Homo sapiens: one gene and its partners. The protein of the gene in region 7 purifies or fractionates together with the protein of the main gene of each other region. This does not show direct contact. Each region holds a gene or a part of one and is shown on either strand. Other genes may lie near its edges. The genes, in order: CDKAL1, SLC27A4, RHBDF2, CYP51A1, VRK2, AXL and INSRR.

Region 1 (3,500 bases), on a different chromosome or scaffold from region 7:
TTAGCTGGGCGTGGTGGCAGGTGCCTGTAATCCCAGCTACTCGGGAGGCTGAGGCAGGAGAATTGCTTGAACCCAGGAGGCACAGGTTGCAGTGAGCCGAGATCGTGCCATTGCACTCCAGCCTGGGCAGCAAGAGTGAAACTCTGTCTCATAATTACAAAAAAAAAAAAAAAAAGCCTCCCTAATAACTCACCTATGTAAGTAACCACTGCTCTAGGATATTGCATCCTCCTTCTTCCTATCATTTTGAGTATTTTCCTTTTCACTGACTCTATTTTTATTCCCTTTATCAAATTTGATTTCCTCTACCTTTGAGAAAAATTTTTAATGATCCTTTTGCTCCATTTAGCTATTACGCTGCTTTCCTTTTATTCTCAAACTTTCATTTCCATATGATTTAATTAAAAATTTCTGAAGGCTAAACAATTCCCTCTATCAGTCTATCAGTTTGTTCAAAGTAAAACCTTTAGCTTATTAATAGTGATGAGTGAGATTATTTAGGTACTTATGATATACAGCCAGGTTTATGCTACATAATGCTGATATGCAGCGTTATATTTATCTTTTTTGAGTGAATATCTCCAAATGAAATTGCTGGCTCGAAGGATATACATATGTTTGGTATAATTGTCAGGTTGCCCTCCAGAAGGGGTGTACCAGTTTTTCTGTGCTTTCAGCTAACAGAGTTTTTGTCAGCTTTGTATCAGTGAGGCAGCTGAAAAATAACTTATTGTTTCAATACTTGTTGTTAGTGTGGTTGAGCATTCTTTCCTCTTTTTTTTTTTTTCTTTTCTGGGTATTTGTATTTCTTAAGTGAACTGCCTGTTTTTCCTTTACGCATTGTTTTCTGGAATGTGGTTACTTATTAGTGTCACATTAGATTCTTGCATTGTTTGTACTTTGCCAGTGAGGCAAAGCCATAGTGGGAAGAGCATGGTATTGAGAGGATGCCAAGGTTCTGATTTCTAGCTCTATCAATGTACAAATCCTTTTGCTTCAGTGGACTCCAGCTCTGTAAGATAAGAAGCTTAGCAACTTCTGCTTCTCTAACTCTAATGATATGGGATGTCTATTGCAGTGGATTCCTTTCATTCCTCTTTTTCCTTTCTATTTCTCTTCAGTGGATCCATACACACTTGTATATGGGATGGCAAAATTGTGTAATTAAAAAATATGGCTTTTAATTAATGTTATTTAATTATTCATGATCTGTCAGTAGTTCTTCCGCATTCCAAAGGCACTACCTGGTCCTAGCCTCTCTCATTTAATTATTTCATAGAAGAGTGGTGATAGAAGAAATCCTAGGGGTTGGGCATTTACTTCAGCTTCCCACCCAGTGTAGAATTTCCTGCTGTGTCATAGAAAGACTAGCTAAATTCAACTTAAGCATTGTGTTCATTCATTTAGTCAGTAACTATTGTGTGCCTGCTATGTGTCAGGCATTGTTAGAGGTGTTGTAGAGACAGTACTGAAAAAGAGATGATGCCTTTGTGCTTAACAAGCTTACATTGTAATGAGGAAGATACAATTATATATGTGGTGTCAGGTAGGTAAGCACAATGAAGAAACATGAAACAAAAGCAGGGTTAGAAGCAGTGAAAGTGTGGGCATGCTTGGGCAGCGTGGTTATTTTAGATAAGGTAGTAGGAAAGGCCTCTCCGAGGAGATGTTGTTTGAGTGAAGAAGTGGGTGGGAAGACATACTTATCTGGGGGCTGATATTCTGGCAGAGGAATAGCAATTATGAAGGCTCCCGAGTCAGAAACTAATTTGGCATACTCAGAATATCTATATCCATATATTGCCCGACTGTGTAGTCTGCAGTAAAAGTATTTATTGAGAACCTGCAATGTGCTAGACATAGTTCTAGGCACCTGGGATAAAACAGTGAACACCTCACACGAAAACCTTTACCCTCACGAAGTATGTATTCTAGTAAGATAAACAGTTAAAAAATTATTAAAACATTTTAAGCAGATGATTAAATGCTACAGTTTAAAAAAAGGCAGGAAAGGGGCATAGGAAGAGGGTGTGTGGTGAGGTGGGGGTGTTGGTTGGAAAGTCCTCTCTTGTTACACTTGAGCAAAGTCCTTAAGGGCTTGAGTGAGTGAGCCATTCAGGTGTCTTAAGTAAGAGCATTCCAGGCAAGAATAAGACTGTGAAATGAATGCATATCTAGTGGGTACGAAATAACAAAGCCTGCATGACTGAGGGGAGCGTGGTAGGAAGTGGGGCCAGAGATGCAGCAGGAGGCTGATTATATATGTCATTGCAGATCTTTGTAGTGATTTTGGCTTTTTACTCTGATATGGAATACCACTGGAAGGGTTTGATTGAGAAGCTTGAGATGAACTTAGGTTTTAAAGGGATCCCTGACTTCTGTGCTGAAAATGTTCTTGTAGAGTTTAAGGATAGAAGCAAGGATATTAGGGATTGCAATAATCCAGACAAGAGGTGATGTTGGTTTGGACCAAGAGTGTAACAGTGGGTATGGTCACAAATAGATTCTGAATATATTTTGAAGGTACAGCCAACAGGATGTTGTTGATTGATTGGATTTAGGGTGACAGAAAGAGGGGAGTGCAGGATTTTTGGCCTGAGCAGTAGAAGATTGGGATTGTCTTTTTTTTTTTTTTGAGACAGAGTCTCACTCTGTTGGCCGGGCTGGAGTGCAGTGGTGAGATCTTGGCTCACTGCAACCTCTGCCTCCTGGGCTCAGGCAATTCTCCTGCCTCAGCCTCCCAAGTAGCTGGGGTTACAGGCGCTCGCCACTATGCCTGGCTAATTTTTTGTATTTTTAGTAGAGATGGGGTTTCACCATGTTGGACAGGCTGGTCTTGAACTCCTGACCTTGTGATTCACCCACCTCGGCCTCCCAAAGTGCTGGGATTACAAACATGAGCCACTGCGCCCAGCCAGGATTGCCATTAAATGAAATGGGAGAAGTTGTAAGAGGATCTGGTAAGGTAGGGAGAAGATCAGGAATTCTGTTTCGACTTTGACTTTTTTTTTTTTTGGGATGGTGCTTCGCCCTTTGTCGCCCAGGCTGGAGTGCAGTGGTGCAATCTCAGCTCACTGCAACCTCTGCCTCCTGGGTTCAAGCGGTTCTTCTGTTTCAGTCTCCCGAGTAGGTGGGATTGCAGGTGCCCACCACCATGCCTGGCTAATTTTTGTATTTTTAGTAGAGACGAGGTGTCACCATGTTGGCCAGGCTGACCTCCAACTCCTGACCTCAGGTGATCCATCCGCCTCAGCCTCCCAAAGTGTTGGGATTACAGGCGTGAGCCACCATGCCCAGCCCTGTTTTAACTTTTTAAGTTTGAAGGAATTATTAGACATTCAAGCAGTGGTGTGGAATAGGCAGTTGAACGTCTGAGTCTGAAGCTCGGGGGAAGAATGGGGCTGGTTATGTAAGCATAGACGTAGTTCATATTTCAAGGCCATGGGACTGGATGAGGTCACCTAGGGAGTGCCTGAAACTAGAGAAGAGTTCCTGTAACA
Region 2 (3,500 bases), on a different chromosome or scaffold from region 7:
AGCACTAGCAACATGGCTGATGCTAGGTGGCCCCTCAGTACAATGGTAATCATCCTTGTGACTAATTAGGCCGTATCTAGCTCATCTGTAAAATGGGAACAAAATTAATTCCCCACTTTCCTCACAGAGCCTGCATTTTATTTGCTGCCACATTGGGCACCTGCAAAGTACTGAGGTTGCTGCTTTCCAAGAGCAGCTCTAATCTCTATAAAGACCGAGTGAGGTAGGGATCTTGGTTTTATGGATGATGAGCCTGGAGTTCAGAGGGGTTTGTGAGGAGCTCACCCAAGATCACACAGTTAGTAAGTGGTAGAACTGGGGTTTGATCTTCAGCTTGATCACAGCACTCTGTTTTTTCTCCCCACACTGTTGTGGTTGTGGGATAATGAATAGGGAAGTCATTAGGATGCTGAAAGGGGGCCTGGCATGGTGGCTCACGCCTGTAATCCCAGCACTTTTGGAGGCCAAGGAGGGCAGGTCACCTGAGCTCGAGAGTTAAAGACTAGACTGGCCAACATGGTGAAACCCTGTTTTTACTAAAAATACAAAAATTAGCCAGGTGTGGTGGCACACGCCTGTAATCTTGGCTACTCAGGAGGCTGAGGCACAAGAATCACTTGAACCAAGTGAGCCGAGATCATGCCACTGCACTCCAGCCTGGGCGACAGAGTGAAACTCTGTCTTAAAAAAAAAAAAAAAAAGATGCTGAAAGGGGGCCAGGCACAGTGGCTCATGCCTGTAATCCCAGCACTTTGGGAGGCCAAGGCAGGAGAATCTCTTGAGCCCAGGAGTTCAAGACCTGCCTGGACAATATAGTGAGACCCTGTCTGTCTCTATTTAAAAAAAGCAAAAGAAAAAAAAAAAAAAAGAAAGGAAAGAAAAAAATGGTGCTGAAAGGGGAGAGGGAAGAAGGCAGCCAGGGAAGAAGAGAGGGTTGGGCAAATCAAGAGGAAGCCAGGAAGGTGGGGCCAAGCCGACCAGCGCTGCTCCATGCCCGGGGGTGGGGGTTATGTGATGTCCGTGCAGTGCGCAGGGGAGCCTGAAAGCAGGTTCCCGCTCTCGGAAGGGGATGGAGGGCCACTGGCCTCTGACCCGCACTCCTCCCTTCTATCTGGTGCACCACAGAGTAAGTAGTGCGGGATAGTGGGGGGGAGCCCAGACCTTGATGTGAGGTAGAGCTGGCATTGCACGCCAGGTCCAGCACATTCTAGCTGTGAGCAGGTCCTCTCATTCTCGGAGCGTCAATCTTCTCATCTGTAAGAGGGGCTGTCAATGGTCCCTCCTTCCCAGGGCTGTGAGACCAGGGAATGCAGGTAAAGCGGACCTACTCTGTGGTTAGCCCATGGCTAATAGAACCATTGCCGGTGCCCCTGTCAACACTGAAGGCCCAGTTGCTTCACTGCCTCTCCTCCTGCCCAGCCAGTATCCTCAGCAACATGGCCAGCCCTGCTGGGAGCAGAGGTCCCTGGGAACATGGGGTTTTCTGGCCTGCCTGCTGACTGCCCTGTCTCCCCACAGCCATCTGTGAGGTCCATGCCAGCCTGGACCCCTCGCTCAGCCTCTTCTGCTCTGGCTCCTGGGAGCCCGGTGCGGTGCCTCCAAGCACAGAACACCTGGACCCTCTGCTGAAAGATGCTCCCAAGCACCTTCCCAGTTGCCCTGACAAGGGCTTCACAGGTGGGCTCCATCCCCTCCCCATAGAGGGGCTCTCACACAGGCCCTGGACAGAGCACTGGCCTCAGTGCCAGAAGGAGGCTTTTCTGGAAACTTGCCATGTGCCTGGAACATGTCACGTCACCTCCCTTTTTCCATCTGGAAAATGGTGACAGTAAACCTGGGCCACTCCAGGGTTACTGTGAAGGTGACATGAGCTGATGTGTATCAGTGCCAGATACAGGGCTGAGAACACAGGAGCTCACAAAGTCCAGTGTGATTTGTTGAACAAGCCTTCATTGATGCCTAATGGGCAGAATCCTGTGGACTCCGGGAACCTGCCTGGTCTGGGCTTTGGTTGGGGTTGGGTGGGAGGGTGGGTGAGGAGCAAGACCCTTTGTATATTCATCAAGTGCCTCTTCAGTGCAGGACACTTCAGGATCTCCAGCTGTGATCCTCTCCCAGCACTGTGCTGCCTCCCTGACCCCACCTCCAGGCAGCCTTCCTGAGCCTCTCACCCCTCTTCTTTTATACTGTAGCCTACCTGGTTCTTCTGCTCTTCTCATTCTCTTTCCTGTGAAGCCACATTGCCTGGTGGCTCAGAGCTTGGGCTGTCGAGTCAGATCCGAGTTTATATCCTGGTTCTACTGCTTCCTTTGTGTGAACCCTGACACCTGCCCTGCCCTTGGAGCCTCAGTTCCCACAGCCATAAAACTGGGGACAGTAGCAGAACCTACTCTATGGGGTATCTTTGAGGGTTGAAAAAAATACAGTGGGGCCAGTCCTGAAGCTAGGGTGTGGCAGGAGGGGCTCAGTAACTGGTCATTGTCATCAGCACTGTTTAACTTCTCTCTTGTATGTGAATCTGGTCTCTTGGGTGCATTTGTCAGCTGCTTGAGGGCAGGGACTCTGGCTGGTTGCTCTGGTGCCCTCATAGTGCCTAGGGCTGGCAAACAGCAGGCAGGCAGAGAGCATGAGGTGTCTCGGCAGGCATTCTAAACACGTGGAGTCTGCCTGTGGAGTTCCTGACCTCCAGGGAACCTCAAGTCTGGTAGGGCCGAGCCTCACATAGAAACTCTAACGTGGCAATCCCTGTCGAGGGCTGCAGAGTGGGACAGATCAATGCTCAGCAGTGCGGAAGCTACCTCAACACCCCACTTCCTGCAGCTAATGCCTCCCTGTGCTCTATGACTTGGGGCAGGTGTCACCTTTATCGTGAAGCCCACCTGGCACCACCTCCCCTCCTGCAAGCTTGGGCCAAATGTGGCTACTGGGTTTCAACAGGTCCTGTGCCCTCCCTCGGCACTTGTTGCTTAGTATTGGAATTGCCTGTGTCCTCATCTGACTGTTCCACTGAGCTGTGACTGCCAAGAGGGCCAGGCCCGTGCCCATCTTACTCACTGATGTCTCTCTCCACCAGGGCCTAGCACAGAGCAAGGGCCCAGGAAATATTTGTTGGAATGGATGCCGGTGTTAGAGCTGAATGGTATCTGAGGTTATCAGAACAGGCTTCCTAGCAAGGGTGTGATGGGAACAGGTGTTGAAGGGTGCACACCTGCAGGTGTCCATTTGTGTGACCCTTTGCCCAGCCCTGAGCTGCCCCCGACAGCCACTCGCGTCTGTTTTCTTTAGATAAACTGTTCTACATCTACACATCCGGCACCACAGGGCTGCCCAAGGCCGCCATCGTGGTGCACAGCAGGTAAGGGGCAGGTGCCCAGGGTGGGGTAGGCACAGGCAGGGCTGGGGAGCCTCCTTCTGCCTTTCTAGGGCCCGCTCAGCCCTTGGCCCTGTGCCTTCCCAGGTATTACCGCATGGCTGCCCTGGTGTACTATGGATTCCGCATG
Region 3 (3,500 bases), on a different chromosome or scaffold from region 7:
CTCCACACTCTCCTCAGATCTCTGTGCCTCGCACTCTGGAGCAGGCCTCGGCGCTGCCCCATCTGCCCCAGGGGATTTCCAGAGTGAGCTCAGGCATCTGCACCGGCTGTGGAAGCGCTGGCTGTCGGAAGCGGCTCCCAGTTTCCTATCCAGCTGAGCCAGGCTGGGGGAGGAGTGGCGGGGACGTCTGCGCCTGCCCAAGTACAGGCTGACCTCGGCGGTGGTGGTGGCTAGGCAGGGACAGCTCTCAGGGCACGGGCGGCTTCACAGGGAAACCAAGCCTGCCCGGAACGTCGTTTTGCCTCCCAGGAGACCTAGGATGGGTGTAAGGAAAAACACATCTTCCGGGAAGTACAAAGCGCCACCGTGTCCACGGCCCCTCCTTCAGCAAATGTATCCGGGCGCCCAGCTGGGAGTTGTTTGTGGTCCAAAAGCTACTGGAAGGCAGTTCCAGCCCCAGTGCCCGGCTCCTGCAGGAAAGTGGTTTCAGCCAAGTGGGCAGTGCAGGAGGTGGGCCAGAGACACTGTTTGGAGTGTGAGGGGAACCTTGTGACCAGCAGAAAAGGATGGAGGAGGATTCCAAACTTCAGGAGCTGGGCCAAGGTCCAGGGGCTGCTGGGCACAGTCGTCCATGTGTGTGCTCAGTAGGATGAGTTCACTTAATTAGTCTGTGCCTCAGTTTCCCCAGCTGCACAGTGGGCTCACTAACAGTAATCTACCTGGAGGGTTGTGTGAGGTGAGGACTCCCGTGGTAAAGGTGTGCAGCCTGCAGTGCAGTGCCCGGCCATGGCAGGAGCAGTGCGGGGAGCCATCGTGATAATGGTGTTAGGGTGGCTTCAGGTAGGGGCGTGGCTGCCGGTCCATGGCACAGACTTGGGAGATGGCCGAGGCCCTGCCTCGTGGGCTGTCAAGGACTAGATGGGAACACGCATATGGAGCAGTGGCACTGTTGTTATTGTTATTCTGTAGGAGTGGCTGTGTCTGGGGTAGGGGGACCTCAGTGCCTTGCTGGCCAAGGGAAGTGAGGGTGGGTTTCCATCTGGGCATGAACTGCTGACCTCTGCCCAGGGGTTTTCCTGGCCTGCCAGTGTGTGTGTGTCACTGACAGTGGGGTGGGGGGCAGCTCATGGAGTTGGTGCCCCTCAGCTGTGCTTTCCCTGGCGTAGGTTCCTGGGGCTGGGAGCAGGGTAAAGCTGCCTCAAGTCTTGGTTTTCTCCTCTGCCTCCCCCGTGTGGCCGCCAACCCTGTGCCAGCAGGTGGTGCAGGGATGGCTTCCTGCCCCGGTCTCTGGCAAGAAACCCTTTTCCCTCTCCCAGTGGGTCTCCCCAGGTTGTCAGCTCCATTTAGTCATAAGAAGATCTGGGGCCAGGCGCGGTGGCTCACGCCTGTAATCCCAGCACTTTGGGAGGCTGAAGCAGGCAGTCACAAGGTCAGGAGATCGGGACCATCCTGGCTAATACGGTGAAACCCCGTCTCTACTAAAAATACAAAAAAATTAGCCAGGTGTGGTGGCATGCACCTGTAGTCCCAGCTACTCAGGAGGCTGAGGCAGGAGAATCGCTTGAACCCAGAAGGCAGAGCTTACAGTGAGCCGAGATCACCCTACTGCACTCCAGCCTGGGCAGCAGAGCGAGACTCCGTCTCAAAAAATAAAAGAAAAAAAAAAGAGATCTGGAAGAGGAGGGTTGAGGATCTGCTGTGGGGTTTGGAGTGGGAACAGGACTTTGAACCCTGGCCTAAGCCCCTTTTGACCTTGCCAGCCCGTGAGGATGATGACAGCCGCCTCTCACCCTTAGCCTCAACTAAATGAGATCATGTCTGTAAAAGTCCTTTGCAAGCTGAGCAGTGCTGCCCAGGCAGTTAGGTGCTGTCCCTTCTTCATGAATCAAAGGCCTTTGCATGCAGGACTCACTCCAGCACCCCAAACACTCAGAGTCCTCACCCGTTCTTTTTCTCCTGCCCCTCACCAGTTCCAGGGTGGCAAGAGGCTGCAGAGTGTGGAGGTTAAGAGCGCGGGACCCTGGCTGGGGTTGTAGCCCCACCACCTCCCTAACTGTGGGACCTTGGACAGGTGACTTCATCTCTCTGAGCCTCAGTTTCCCCACCTGTCGAATAGAGATCTGTCCCCTGTGGGGCTCGTGGCTCAGATAGAGACTAAGTGAGCGATGGTGGCAGAGCTCAGCCAGGAATAAAAGAAACTTCCAACTGGGCGTTGGGTGTGTGCCAGGCACTGTACATTCATATCTGCTGTCATCTTCCCTGGCTCCCTCCGTGGTGGGGCATCAACCCATCTCACAGCAGAGGAGGCAGGCTCTGCAGCACCCACTTGCCCAAAGTCTCCCAGCAGGTAGGTGGCCCAGGCAGGTTTGAGTCCCATCTCTGGCCCCTTATTCCTCCTCATTCCTCAGCAAGAGAGCTCCACGCTGCCCCGAAGCAAGGTGTGGGCCATAAGCACGTGGCTTTGCAGGCCTGCTTGGGACAAGCAACCTGGTGTCCCCGTGTCCTGAAACCCTGGCAGTCACTGGGGCTAGGGCCAGCCTCTTCCCTGGGAAGCAGGGAGCCCCAGGGCAACGTTCTGGGAAATCAGGTTTATTAGTTCCTTAATGACCGTTTACAAGCTCAGAAGTGTCTGCCTGGCATTTTCCCTCCCTGCTGAGGGGCTCCATGCAGCCGGAGGCAGAACTGGGCCTCCAGAAGCGCTCTGAGTGTGTCGAGGTGAGGGCCCAGGGATGCCGTCGGCTCCCTGGGCTCTGCATGCTCACACCCAGCCAGTCCAGGCCTATTTCTGGCTGGGTGGCACTGGGCAAGGTGCTTACCTCTCTGTACAATAGGTGAGACCTTGTACCTCAGCTGAGCTGTTCCTGGGGTGAGCCCTCGTTCATGGTGACAAAGTCACATAGATCTTAGACCCTGGGAGGATACTAGCATCTTATGCATACACAAACTGAGGCTCAGAGATGTTAAGTGGCTTGCCCAAGATCGCACAGTGGTTAGAGATGGGCCTGTGACCCTGTCTTCTGCCATCGGGACAGATTTTCACTGTCTGGAGGCAGGTGGAAACCGGGTGGGCTCCTACTTTGTAAGCACAGGACAGTGCCCTGTCTGTGTACATGGGACAGTCACAAACGGAAATGGCCTGGTCACACCTTAGTGTCAAGGAGCCTCCAGCAGGAGTGAAACGGACCTCTCACACAGACCCCAGGCTGCATCTCATCCTGCCCCAACCGCTGGGCTTGTGCTGGACCACCACTGCTTCCAAGGACCCGTGAAAACCCGGCTGCCGGGATGCAGAGAGGCAGACTTTCATGAACGTTTGCAGCAAAGGGCAGTTCCCACCGAGCCTGTGTTGCTGTGGCACTGTGTGGTGCACACCCCACCCCGGAAACCCTCCAGTGTCCTGGTGTCTGACCCCAAATGGACAGGGCCTTTTGGCCCCCAGGGGCCACTTCTGACTCCTCCCCTTCACAACGATGCTGAGGGAGCAGGAGAACTGGGGCCCG
Region 4 (3,500 bases), on a different chromosome or scaffold from region 7:
TAGCTATAACTTGAGGTTAATAGTATGTACCTCACAGGAAGATAAAAGTGAGTAATTCATGTAAAACACTTAACATGGTACCTGCTACATAGTGAACATACTATTTAAAGGTAAAGTTTAGGAGTTGAAGCTTGTTTTCTGAATCTGCTAGTATTTTCACCCCCTACAAAAAACTATTGTATTAGAAAGTGAAAAGTAGAACCAGATTCCATGGAAGAACCAGAGTGACTCTTCTGCTTTAAGACTTGATTTGGTATTAAAATTGGAATTTTATGTTAATTTAAAAGAGTATCCTACTTTCTGTTGAACTGGAAAATACTTCTAAAGGAATTTCTTGCTTGTTTTAGGCCTTTAGTTTGAACACAGGCAATGTGTTAAGAATCTGGGATATATATGTTAAATAAAGCACAGTTCTTGCCCTTAGGGACTATGGACATTTTTAACAATGTAAGATTTTCATGACTTCCAGTATGTTCCTGGTTCTGATTTTTTTGTCAATTATTTTAGAGTCATTAAAGTTGGTTAAATAAGATGCTTTATGCTCGGTCCTGGTTCTCAAAATGAATTTGATCCTAGAAGGTTATTTCTTTATTTAAGAAAATCATCTTTATCTTTTAATTACAGACGCAGGGACAGAGCTCATCGGGAAATCAAGGATATTTTCTATAAGGCAATCCAGAAACGCAGACAGTCTCAAGAAAAAATTGATGACATTCTCCAAACTTTACTAGATGCTACATACAAGTAAGAGCTATTCAGATAACATATTAAGCTGAAGCAGGAAATTACACATTAAAACACAGTTAAATAGTATTTCCAGTTAAAAAACAGTGATGCTGGCAAAATAAGTTGGTAGCTGTGATCTTTGGACTCTTTAAATTGTTGAGACATAAACTATTGGCATCCTGTGTCTTACTGTAATCCCAGTGACTGGGTATGGTAAAAGTTTGCTAATGAACTGTAATGGAGTCTTTTGTAATCAAAATCGTTTTGTGCTGGTCTGTCTCTTCCCTAAGAGAAAAAAAACTCTTGACTTGTGATAGTCAAATATAAGAGACCACTATACCTGAAAAATGTATTCATTATGACACTTTATTTAAAGGTTGAGGCATGAAATGTATCTGCCAAAATGTTAAATTTGTGTCTTTGGTTCATTCCTTAGGGATGGGCGTCCTTTGACTGATGATGAAGTAGCAGGGATGCTTATTGGATTACTCTTGGCAGGGCAGCATACATCCTCAACTACTAGTGCTTGGATGGGCTTCTTTTTGGCCAGAGACAAAACACTTCAAAAAAAATGTTATTTAGAACAGAAAACAGTCTGTGGAGAGAATCTGCCTCCTTTAACTTATGACCAGGTTTGTTGGATTTTTCAGTTTCATTGCTGCCTTATGACTTTGAGGATCTGTGGCTAATTTTTAAAAGGGACAATTTGAGATTTTCTATATACTATAGCTTAAATTGATCAGCTTCTCTATTTTTAGCAAATTCCCTATAACCTTACCTAAAATATCTTAATGTTATTGCTTCTTGCCATTAAGCTTTATCAGATATGTTTTGGGTTGATGGCTTAGAGATCCTTGGGGATGTTTCTTTGGTACTTACTTCCTCTGCTTCAAAGTCTGGCTTCTGTACATAGAGGATATTATGTGCATGTTGTGTGTCTTATGAAGTGTAGAAGCCTCTGAATTACTTAGAATTCTGTATGTCCAGAGTGGCCTGGGCATGAGCAGAGACTTCTAAAAGTAGTAGTAGTAGTAGTAATGAGGACAAGACATTTACAAATACTACATGCAACTTGCTGGGTGGAAAGGAAGAGAGGACAACTCACTGCACAACCTGACATTCCATCTTGGAAGCAAACCTTGGTGATGTCATCTTCCTGTTATCTTTTGTGCTTTTGGTCCTATATTAATATGGCACATTACACTGATTTTCAGATGTTAATTGTATTCCTGGGATAAATCCTACTTTGTCATGGTGCATAGTTCTTTCTATATGTTACTACATATAAACTTGCTGGTGTTTTGTTGAGGATTTTTGCATCTATATTCATAAAGGATATTGATCTCTAGTTTCACTGTGATGTCTTTGACTGGTTTTGATATCAGGATCATACTCATCTCATAGAATGTATTTGGAAGTATTCTTTTTTTCTTCTAATTTTTGGAAGAGTTTGTGGATGATTGGTGTTAATCCTTTTTTACATATTTGCAAAAATTCAGCAGTGAAATCATCTAGATCTGTGCTTTTCTTTCTGAGAAGACTTTACTTACTAATTCAATTTATTTGTTACAGGTTTATTCAGATATTCCATTTCTTCTTATGTCAGTTTCAGTAGTTTATATCTCTCTAGGAATTTGTCCATTTCATCTAGGTTACCTAATTTGTTGGCATACAATTGTTCATAGTATTCTCATAATCCTTTTTATTTCTGTAAGCTCAGTAGTGATGTCTCAACACTCATTCTTGTTTTTAGTAACTTAAAATAACAGCTTAACTGATATATTTACATAGCATAAATCCATCCATTTAAAATGTACACTTTGTGGTTTTTAGCATATTAAGAGTTGGGAAACCATCATCATAATTTAATTTTAGAACATTTACATCACTCCCAAAAGAGAGCTGGTACCCATTAGCAGTCATGCTTCATTCTCCCTGACTGCTGCCCCTGGCAACCATTAATCTCCTTTTGCCTCTGTGAGTTTGCCTATTCTGGATATTTCATGTAAATGGGATCATACAATTTGTAGTCTTTTGTGACTACCTTGTTTCACTTAGCATGTTATCAGGGTTCTTCCATGTTGTAGCATGTATCAGTACTTCAGTCTTTGTTATTACCAATAATATTCCATTATATGGATAGACCACATTTTGTTTATTTGTTCATCAGTTGATGGACATTTGAGTTGTTTCCACCTTTTAAACTATTATGAATAATGCCGCTCTAAACGTTTGTGTACTGATTTTATGTGGACATGTGTTTTCAATTTTGGGGGGTCATACCTAGGAGTAGAATTGCTGGGTTATAAGGTAACTTTGAAGAACTGCCAGACTGTTTTAAAAAGTGGCTGCACCACTTTCAAATCTCACTAAACAGTATATGTTGGTCCTGACTTCACCCCCTCACCAAACTTGTTACTTGATTTTTTTATTATAATAGGTGTGAAGTGATACTTTTTTTTTTTTTTTTGAGACAGAGTCTTGGTGTGATGCCCAGGCTCTAGTGCAATGGCGCGACCTTGGCTTACTGCAACCTCGGCTTCCCAGGTTCAAGCTATTCTCCTTCCTCAGCCTCCCAAGTAGCTGGGTACACACCACCACGCCTGGCTAATTTTTGTATTTTTGGTAGAGACAAGGTTGTACCATATTGGCCAGGCTGGTCTTGAACTCCTGACCTCAAGTCATCTGCCCGCCTTGGCCTCCCAAAGTGCTGGGATTACAGGTGTGAGCCACCATGCCCAGTTGGTATTTTGTTTTGATTTTGCATTTCCCTG
Region 5 (3,500 bases), on a different chromosome or scaffold from region 7:
CTGCAGAAAAAGGAACTGTTCAGTTTAGGGTAAGAAAGCCCAGATGCCCTGAATTGTACAAGACAAATGCTTGTGGGCAGTGTATATTATGTCATACTCTATTGTTAAAGATTTGAGTCAGATGAGTAATCTAGATGGGAGACAAGCCCAGTTTTTGTTTCTTAGCACAAACCATTTTATTGAATCCATACTATTATTTATAAAATGCAGATTTCTGTTTCTAAAGCAAAAAGTGTTGAAACTTTAATATTACATGAAGGTCTCTTAAATTAGGAGGTTGTGCTTAGGAAGAACACAACCATGAAAATGAAGGAACTGATTTACAAAAGTTTATTACCGAAACATTTTATGAAATAAAACAGCCAGAAGTTTGCAGCATACATGTCCAACTAAGCATAATAATAATAGTTTCAAAAGTTTCTATCTCTTGATAGTAATGATACTTAATACTTCACTGGCTTAAAAAGCAGATGATTAAAAAAATCATAATTTCATACTAAAGGCATTTTGCTTTATAGTTCTGGCAATATGCTAGTAAATTTTAAAATGTACTTAATAAATCCAGATCTTGAAAGACTAACATTTAAACCAGTATTACATCACAATATCTACGCTTCAGGTTTGTAATAATAAATTTATAATGGAAATGGCTCTTTTTATTTTCTCCCCCTCCTACCTCACTGGTACCTCATTTTTCCAAACCCCAGTCCCATGAAGGCTTTGCAGCACAGCTGCTATCAGTTGGTGGAGTGCCAGGAGTTTTCCATTGTCTTGTAACAGTGATTTGTTCCCAGCACATTCAACTCTCTTCCTCATTTTGGATATTCTGGTTAATGGAATTGTAATATGTACCAAACTTGGCTTACCAATCTTCACAGGACCATAAAACAAAAATATTTATATTAAAATAGTAGTGAATGTAATTTAATTTTTTAATCATCCCTTTAGAAATTGGATACCCCCGAGCCCTTGTGAAGGGGCTGCATGAAGCATCAGTTATAAATATGGTGATAAAATAGCAGCACTTGCTAGTTAACAGAGATCTGGTTGACCGAATGCTAGATAACAGAATTTGATAAAAATAGATGAAAAAAACAGGTTGCATAATTGCTACAGTGTCAAGGAAGAAAAGCCCAGAACCAAGAGTTTACATTTTAACCACGTTAGCTTCATGTTCCCAGGAAATAGCTCTGTACTATATGGTGAAAGTGGTCACTCTTAACTTTAATAGGGGGAAAGCGATGATGACTATTCCTTTTGAAATTTTTCTCTATAGGGAGTGAAACCCAGTGCCTCTGCAGTTTTCCTTTCTTTTGAGTGGAGGTAGGCCTAGAGGGGAAGTGAAGGATTAGGAAGTCACTCCTGCCAACGCATGAAGTTTCCCAGGTTTTCCCACCATGGATATAAGCAACTAAGTGAGAAAGTAAGAAGTACTTGAGTTTGAGTCAGTAATATATTTTTGAAAGGGAAAGGCATATCTAAACATCTCTGTGAACAAATGAAAACATGCCAGTTTTTAAATAGTATTTGGTATTATCACCACTTCTATTCCAATTTTAGGTTGAACCTCAACATGAAACAGAAATGCAAGCTACAAATATTTTAATGCAGTGATGTTTGTAACTGTTGGTTACTAATTCTGTTTGTATTTAAAAGTTGGTAGTTCCTAACCTTTTTGGGGAAAGGGGGTTTACTATGTAGTTCTAGGGGAACATTTCTTTACACTAGAGAAAAAATAAAAGATGGCAACTCCTCCTCCCACTGCTCTAAAATCAAAAACACGAGGCTGTGTACCAGGCTAGCTAGGTATGGAGGACATGAGGGAGGTTTCATACATTCTAAATTCAATCTTAGCTAACAACATGGAATTCAAGGTCCTTTCTAAATATACGGTTATAATCCCAAAATCAAAGCCTTAATTAAAATTTGCAGTTTTTTTCCTTAGAAATAAAGAGGTTTATAATAAGTAACACTTTAACTGAATTTTTAGAAGTTCAGCATAAAGTGTGAAGTATGGTCAGTTGTATTATTTATGTAGTCCTTAATAGTTGCACCTCATAAATCAAAATCACTATAATTATTACAATATACTTCCTCTCATAAGATCAGTGAATTATAAGCGTATCAACAAAAATATGTTAAAAACATTACTAGTTTGTCTCATCAATTCTGTAGGTCACTATATTTCAGTCATTTTTGAATATCATTTAAAAAGTTATTTTCATTGAATTGTTCATTTTTAGTTTCTTCAGGAGATGTAAATGTGTAAAAGACAAAGATAACAAAGATTTTGAGATTACTGGAGTCTTGACAATTCTTGCCAATTGTGAATGACATGTAAAAAATTTAATAATTCACAGGTGAAATAGCCCAATTTTTGGTATGTGCTCATAGTTTAGCATATGATGAAAAGCCAAACTATCAAGCCCTCAAGAAAATTTTGAACCCTCATGGAATACCTTTAGGACCACTGGACTTTTCCACAAAAGGACAGAGTATAAATGTCCATACTCCAAACAGTCAAAAAGTAAGTAACATAATCCCTGCTATCCTATGATTACCTTCTATGATACTTTTCTATCGAATGAAATTGTTTTAGGTCTCAAAATGAGTCTGACAGCTTTCTTCTTCCTTATATTTAACTCCCATTTTGCCTAACTCAGCACCAAGAAAGTTTGTTCCAAGTTCTTTTGACCTGTTGTCTCACAGAGAAAAATAGGATCTGTGGCCTACTATGTACTATGAAAGAAAGCAGTCACTACTGTCATAGAGATGTGACTAGGGTAAAGGCTAATCTGATGTTACTCATGAGAAAGCCATCATTTGCTTCTTTTCTCCAGGTTTTCTTTAGATATTGCCCTGTGTTTTTGCCTACCAATTTGGCCATAATTTGGTGATAACAGTCTTCGATTTAACCAGGTTATTTGTATGTGCTGATATTTCAATCCATGGAAACAGTTCTTTACAGAAAATAAAAGAGTTTATGCCAGAGATCTAGGTTAAAAAAAATCATTTTTTAAAAGTTACACCTCTTCTTTTAGTCTGCCATCTTCCCAAAGACCAACACCAACTTAAAAAAAAAATTAAGATTTCGAGCATTTTTAAGCGGGTGGTGGAAATCTTAGACTGCCGTTATTAGCAAGAATAGTGGACAGGCAACTCAGCATCCATGTCTTCCTTGACCACTATCCGTATGCACAAATAGAGTGTGGAGGGCATTTTTTTCCTGATGCATGTACAGTAAGATAGGGTCAGGATGCTATTCATTTTTAATATTTCTTATGAACTTTGGATCATCACACGTGTTCATGAGCCAAGAATGCGGGATGCAAACTAATGTGACTGATAGGCTGCTAGATGAATGGTGAGTCAAGTATCAGTGCACAGATGGTTCTGATTTGCTGAATTTTGTAGTTGCTGCAACTGAAGACATAAAATATCCTTCTAGTCATAAATTAGCTCTTTGGAAGCAAAACCTTGGCACCAGAGCTTTACAACCT
Region 6 (3,500 bases), on a different chromosome or scaffold from region 7:
CAGGAGCCATTTCAGGGTTACACAGCACAGGAAGTCCAGGGCTAAGTTCTTCACACACAGGGAAGGAGAAGCATAGGGCATTCAGATTGGGGCTGGTGGTGAATAGAGAATGATCCTTTCTGAATTACAGGGCTTAAAAGCTTGGGCTATGAAGTCATTACCCACTCATTCGTTCATTATGGAGCACCTCCTGTGTACCAGGTTATTTTGTTTGTTTTGCTCTGTTTTGTTTTGTTTTGAGGAGGAGTCTCACTCTGCTGTCCAGGCTGGAGTGCAGTGGCATGACCTCAGCTAACTACTACCTCTGCCTCCCAGGTTCAAGCGATTCTTCTGCCTCAGCCTCCTGAGTAACTGGGACTACAGGTGTGCGCCACCACGCCCAGCTAATTTTTGTGTTTTTAGTAGAGACGGGGTTTCACCATGTTGGCCAGGATGGTCTCTATCTCTTGACCTCATGATCCACCTGCCTCGGCATCCCAAAGTGCTGGGATTACAGGTGTGAGCCACCACACCCAGCCTACGTTTTTTGTTTTTTGAGACAGAGTCTTGCTCGTTGCCCATGCTGGAGAGCAGTGGCAGGATCACAGCTCACTGTAGTCTCAACCTCTGAGGCTCAAGCGATCCTCCCCACTCAGCCTCCCACTGGTTATAGTCTTGGCCTGGGTCTGAATCTCAGCCGTGCAACCTTGGGCAAGTCATTTTGCCTCTGTGAGCCACAGTGTCCTGAACTGTTAAATGGGATGATACTTGTTTGGGTCCCCAGGGCAGGTAGGGAAGTGCTGGGAAGCAGCCTGGGCAGTTGTGAGCAGGTGGACCCTGGAGCCAGACTGCCCGGGTTTGAGATCTGCCTCTTCCACCTCCAAGCTGTGTGTTCCCTTAGGCAGACTCCTAACCTTTTTGTGCCTTGCTTTCTTCATCTTTAAAATAGAGATAGGCCAGGGACAGTGGCTCATGCCTGTAATCCCAGTGCTTTGGGAGGCCGAGGTGGGAGGATCACTTGAGGCTGGGAGTTTGAGACCAGCCTGGACAACATAGCAAGACTCCCTCTCAAAAAATTGGCTGGGCATGGTGGCTCACACTTGAAATCCTAGCACTTTGGGAGGCCAAGGCAGGCAGATCACTTGAGGTGGGGAGTTTGAGACCAGCCTGGCCAACATGGTGAAACCCCGTTTCTACTAAAAATACAAAAATTAGCTGGGCATGGTGGTGCATGCCTGTAATCCCAGCTACTCGGGAGGCTGAGGTACGAGAATCTCTTGAACTGGGGAGGCAGAGGTTGCAGTGAGCCAAGATTGCGCCATTGCACTCAAGCCTGGGGGACAAGGGCGAAACTCCATCTCAAAAAAAAAAAAAAAATTATCCGGGATGGTGGTGCGTGCCTGTGGTCCCAGCTACTCAGGAAGGCAAGCCTAGGAGTTCGAGCCTAACCTCCAGTGAGCTATGTTTGCTGTGATTGCATCCATCCTGGGTGACAGCGCAAGACCCTGTCTCAAAAAATAAAAATAAAAAACAAAAACAAAAACAAAACAAAACAAAACAAAAAACCAATAAAATGGGAATGATAATAGTAGCACCTGAGAAGATTAAATGAGTTAATATATATAAAGTTGGCCAAGCGCAGTGGCTGACGCCTGTAATCCTAGCACTTTGGGAGGCCGAGGCGGGCAGATCGTGAGGTCAGGAGATCGAAACCATCCTGGCTAACAAGGTGAAACCCCGTCTCTACTAAAAATACAAAAAATTAGCCGGGTGTGGTGGCACACGCCTGTAGTCCCAGCTACTCAGGAGGCTGAGGCAGGAGAATTGCTTGAACCCGAGAGGCGGAGGTTGCAGTGACCCGAGATCAAACCACTGCACTCCAGCCTGGACAACAGAGTGAGACTCCATCTAAAAAAAAAAAAAAAAAGAAAATATATATTTTATATATATATATATATTATATACACACACACAGACACACACACATACACATATCACATATAAAGTGCTGAGTATGGTGCCTGGTACTTACTAATCATGTTTGATGAAGATGAGTGATGATGATGATGATGATGATGATGGAGTGGAGGTGGAGGGAGAGTCCTCCCTCTCCTCCCCTCCTCCTCACGACCTTTCTCTCTCCCTCAAGTTGCCATCTGCACGAGGTCAGAGCTGGAGGATTTCCTGAGTGAAGCGGTCTGCATGAAGGAATTTGACCATCCCAACGTCATGAGGCTCATCGGTGAGAGAGGGGCAGATTCAAGGGGTCTACAAGCCCCATGGGGGCCATAGCAGAGGGAAGAGCCCTGCTTCTGGCCCTGGGAAGATCAAACTTCCAGGCTTCCTGCTCCCCGCTCCTTCAGGGTCAGCAGGCTTCCCCCTCCTAGTCTCCCTCAGCTTGGAATGTGACCTCTGATCATTCCCAGAAATAGCTGAGGTCCCCAGGAGGGCTCCGGAAACGTCCCTGGGAACTCTGCTGGAAACAGCTTCTCTGCAGCTTGGTCCTTGCCACTGCCACTACCCCCAAACAATATGGTGGCCAGATTGGATGGGTAGTGAGAAGGAGAGGCTGGAGGCTGGCTGGTGGGGGGCTTGGCTTCCCCTTCTGCCCAGCAGGAGTGACAGGGCTACCTGGGGGGCTCAGGTGTCTGTTTCCAGGGTTCTGAACGAGAGAGCTTCCCAGCACCTGTGGTCATCTTACCTTTCATGAAACATGGAGACCTACACAGCTTCCTCCTCTATTCCCGGCTCGGGGACCAGCCAGTGGTAAGGGGCGTTTAATCATTCAGTCTACAAATATTAACTGAGCATCTATCAGGTACCCAGTGCTGCTCAGACCCTGGGAAGACCACGGTGACCAGGAGCTTGCTCTCCTGGAGCATTTCTTCCAGCAGGGGAGGGGCGGATGATAAACAAGCTAATAAATACCTAAGCGAGATGATTTAAATGTTTAAGTGCTAGGAAGGAAATACAGTAGGATGGAAGATAAGGAGGCCAGGCAGTGAATTTGGGTGGACGTGGAAGATCTTGCCGAGGAGGTGACCGTGAAGGAGTTGGGGCTGGGGAGATGTCTGGAGATCTGGGCAGGAAGCGACCCCAACAGAGCGCACAGCATAGGCAAAGGCTCGGAGGTGGGAATGATCATCGTTTGTCTGAAGACCAGACAGGAGTCTGGTGGGAGTGTCAGTCAAGGGCAAGAACATAGGCAATCAAGTCCAAGAGGAAGGCTGGAGCAAGTTTATAGGACCTTGCAGGCCATGGAGAGGGGTTGGGTTGAATTGTCAGGGCCATGGGAAACCACTGCGGGCAGAGCTAGGCTTGCACAGAGGGATGGAGGGAGGAGGGATCGCATCAAGGACTCTGTTGACCTCTCCTCCCACCTGCCTTGGCTCCCCAGTACCTGCCCACTCAGATGCTAGTGAAGTTCATGGCAGACATCGCCAGTGGCATGGAGTATCTGAGTACCAAGAGATTCATACACCGGGACCTGGCGGCCAGGAACTGCATGTGAGTGCCTTTCA
Region 7 (2,555 bases):
TCGGGGGTACAGAGGGTGCCAGGCAGATGAGGGCGGCCTGAAAAGTAGAGAGACTCCCTTAAGCTAGGCATCAGGAGACCCACAGCCCTGGTCCTGACAGCCTGTGAGACCCTTGGCAAGTCACCCCCACCCTGTATCTTAGTCTCTTGTCCAAGGGCAGAGGGGTTTGGATGGGATGAGTTCTGAGGTCCATTGAGCCCCTACTTTCCAGGGTTCTTGGTGACTCTGGAGGATGAGAAGATTGGGAGAGGTATCCCAGGGGCAGGAGCTAGTGCGTGGCTCTTATGCCCCACACCTCCTCCACCCTCACCCTCACTTTCCAGACTTCGGGATGACTCGGGACGTGTATGAGACAGACTATTACCGCAAGGGTGGGAAGGGGCTGCTGCCCGTGCGCTGGATGGCCCCCGAGTCCCTCAAAGATGGGATCTTCACCACCCACTCGGATGTCTGGTGGGGCCGAGCTGGAGCACAGGGCTCCAGGGATGTGGAGGCGGGATCTGGGGAGGGGCCTGGAACACCCCCATCCCTTGGAATGCACTGAGTAGCACGAAGGGTGCTGGGCTCAGGAGCTCCTGCATGCCCCCAGGTCCTTTGGCGTGGTACTCTGGGAGATTGTGACCCTGGCAGAACAACCCTACCAGGGCCTGTCCAATGAGCAGGTGCTGAAGTTCGTCATGGATGGCGGGGTCCTGGAGGAGCTGGAGGGCTGTCCCCTTCAGCTGTGAGTCACCTCCCCTGCCCCTTCCTCATTGTTGATCTACCTACAACCCTCCCCCACCCGGCCCCATGATTCTGGCTCACCTCCTCTGATGCTTTGACATCCACTGACCCTCAGCTATGAGCGCCACCCCCCTATCCCAAACCCCCAAGACTCCCATTTAATCCCTTCTCACCCTCCCAGGCATAATGGCCCACGATCCCCACTCCCACCAACTGACCCTCAGTGCAGGAGGCTGAGAGCGTGGCAGGGGCTCCCGGATGCCTCTGACCCTGCTCCCCACACCCACCAGGCAGGAGCTGATGAGCCGCTGCTGGCAGCCGAACCCACGCCTGCGCCCATCTTTCACACACATTCTGGACAGCATACAGGAGGAGCTGCGGCCCTCCTTCCGCCTCCTCTCCTTCTACTACAGCCCGGAATGCCGGGGGGCCCGGGGCTCCCTGCCTACCACCGATGCAGAGCCTGACTCCTCACCCACTCCAAGAGACTGCAGCCCTCAAAATGGGGGTCCAGGGCACTGAGGGGCACCTCATTCCCTGGCTGGCCTCCCATGGGGAGACAGGAAGGGACCCGACCTCTGTGGCTGAGACGCCTGAATGTTCACCCCCACCCCAACTCAGGGCAAGGGATGGCCGAGGGTGGGGCAGAGAACAGGAGCAGGGAAGGCTGTGGGGGTGGGCAGAGGGGTCTCACCATAGGAGTTTCTCAGACTCTGAGTCCCTCGGGGGAGAGCAAGCAGGGTCAAAGCCAGAGGAGTAGAGATCAGGTCAGGGAGAGATGTCCTGCCCTCAGAGGTAGGGACCCCACTCAGACTAGGAAGAGGGGGCCCGCCCACCCTAGAGGCCCTGCCCCTCAGTTTGGGGTCTCCTCTGGACAGGTAGGGCCAGCGACATGTTTGAAATCAGATGAGCAATCAGAAGCAGGCCTGGGGCGCTCTCCATGCATGTATGGGAGGGGGGTGGGGCTCCACATGACTGCCTTGCTTGCCACTGGTTTCACCTCCTCCCCTCAGCTCCACTGACCAGGTGGCATGGGGAGAACCCAGGGGCCTGGGGAGTGGTTCCCAGCCTGCCCGCCCTCACCTCCTCCTCTCCTTTTGCCCTGCCCAGGGCTCCCCAAGCTTGGTGCTCCTTCCTCCTTTTCTCCAGGGGCATCCCTTGGAGTACAGTCACCCTTTCTTCAGTCCCTCCCCTCAATGATTAGCCCTGGATGCTTAAGGCTTTCAGAGCCTCATCTTCCTCCCTCCCCTCACCCTCACCCAGCCCCGCCCCCACCCCTGCCTCTCATGGGAAGACTGGAGAAGGCACAATAAATGCTGAGGCCTGTTTGTACCCTGGTCCCAGGCAGCCCATTATCTCTCCATCTACATGGTGTTAACACTGGATGAACTTCCTTTCTCCCTCCTCTGGGACTCGAGGTGGTGACCCTAAGGCAGAGACACGGGATAAATACACTGCTGTCAAACACCACCTCCATGAGGACCCGAGCAGCCAGGGTTGCCATGGCAGTGAGGCAGGACAATCTTGCTATTATCTCCTGCTCAGGACCAGAAGTGGTTGAGCCCGGCAGGGAACCTTTGTGTCTAGCCTCCAAGCAGAACCAACCAGTCCCGGACACCTCATCTTAATTTCACCCCTTGTTATGTTCGTTATATCGGTCCACTGGGTAGGTATTTTCTGGAGTGTCATAGGACAGACTTTAAGTGGGCAGACATGGGGCAAGGGAGAGGCCCTGATGACATCACCTGTTCATGCCAGATGCCCCCACCCAAGCCAGGGAACACACAGCAGAGCAGGGTCTGTGTGTCTGGCACCCTGTGGTTATCCTGGGA

What was found.
Region 1: the proteins of INSRR (region 7) and CDKAL1 purify together in Homo sapiens (affinity purification with mass spectrometry; one large-scale study listed by BioGRID and IntAct). This does not show direct contact.
Region 2: the proteins of INSRR (region 7) and SLC27A4 purify together in Homo sapiens (affinity purification with mass spectrometry; one large-scale study listed by BioGRID and IntAct). This does not show direct contact.
Region 3: the proteins of INSRR (region 7) and RHBDF2 purify together in Homo sapiens (affinity purification with mass spectrometry; one large-scale study listed by BioGRID and IntAct). This does not show direct contact.
Region 4: the proteins of INSRR (region 7) and CYP51A1 purify together in Homo sapiens (affinity purification with mass spectrometry; one large-scale study listed by BioGRID and IntAct). This does not show direct contact.
Region 5: the proteins of INSRR (region 7) and VRK2 purify together in Homo sapiens (affinity purification with mass spectrometry; one large-scale study listed by BioGRID and IntAct). This does not show direct contact.
Region 6: the proteins of INSRR (region 7) and AXL purify together in Homo sapiens (affinity purification with mass spectrometry; one large-scale study listed by BioGRID and IntAct). This does not show direct contact.

What each region holds. Positions count from the first base shown.
Region 1 is NC_000006.12:20,537,457-20,540,956, forward strand, and holds part of CDKAL1 (threonylcarbamoyladenosine tRNA methylthiotransferase), read left to right. Parts: intron 1-3,500. UniProt on the Homo sapiens protein: Catalyzes the methylthiolation of N6-threonylcarbamoyladenosine (t(6)A), leading to the formation of 2-methylthio-N6-threonylcarbamoyladenosine (ms(2)t(6)A) at position 37 in tRNAs that read codons beginning with adenine.
Region 2 is NC_000009.12:128,347,027-128,350,526, forward strand, and holds part of SLC27A4 (long-chain fatty acid transport protein 4), read left to right. Parts: intron 1-1,518; coding exon 1,519-1,677; intron 1,678-3,285; coding exon 3,286-3,355; intron 3,356-3,457; coding exon 3,458-3,500. UniProt on the Homo sapiens protein: Mediates the levels of long-chain fatty acids (LCFA) in the cell by facilitating their transport across cell membranes. Appears to be the principal fatty acid transporter in small intestinal enterocytes.
Region 3 is NC_000017.11:76,494,924-76,498,423, reverse strand, and holds part of RHBDF2 (inactive rhomboid protein 2), read left to right. Parts: intron 1-3,500. UniProt on the Homo sapiens protein: Regulates ADAM17 protease, a sheddase of the epidermal growth factor (EGF) receptor ligands and TNF, thereby plays a role in sleep, cell survival, proliferation, migration and inflammation. Does not exhibit any protease activity on its own.
Region 4 is NC_000007.14:92,120,978-92,124,477, reverse strand, and holds part of CYP51A1 (lanosterol 14-alpha demethylase), read left to right. Parts: intron 1-624; coding exon 625-744; intron 745-1,162; coding exon 1,163-1,358; intron 1,359-3,500. UniProt on the Homo sapiens protein: Sterol 14alpha-demethylase that plays a critical role in the cholesterol biosynthesis pathway, being cholesterol the major sterol component in mammalian membranes as well as a precursor for bile acid and steroid hormone synthesis.
Region 5 is NC_000002.12:58,137,306-58,140,805, forward strand, and holds part of VRK2 (serine/threonine-protein kinase VRK2), read left to right. Parts: intron 1-2,360; coding exon 2,361-2,527; intron 2,528-3,500. UniProt on the Homo sapiens protein: Serine/threonine kinase that regulates several signal transduction pathways.
Region 6 is NC_000019.10:41,250,223-41,253,722, forward strand, and holds part of AXL (tyrosine-protein kinase receptor UFO isoform 1 precursor), read left to right. Parts: intron 1-2,128; coding exon 2,129-2,221; intron 2,222-2,623; coding exon 2,624-2,745; intron 2,746-3,376; coding exon 3,377-3,486; intron 3,487-3,500. UniProt on the Homo sapiens protein: Receptor tyrosine kinase that transduces signals from the extracellular matrix into the cytoplasm by binding growth factor GAS6 and which is thus regulating many physiological processes including cell survival, cell proliferation, migration and differentiation.
Region 7 is NC_000001.11:156,839,563-156,842,117, reverse strand, and holds the end of INSRR (insulin receptor-related protein precursor), read left to right. Parts: coding exon 1-6; coding exon of another isoform or gene 7-37; intron 38-323; coding exon 324-453; intron 454-589; coding exon 590-724; intron 725-1,013; coding exon 1,014-1,245; 3' UTR 1,246-2,055; downstream 2,056-2,555. UniProt on the Homo sapiens protein: Receptor with tyrosine-protein kinase activity. Functions as a pH sensing receptor which is activated by increased extracellular pH. Activates an intracellular signaling pathway that involves IRS1 and AKT1/PKB.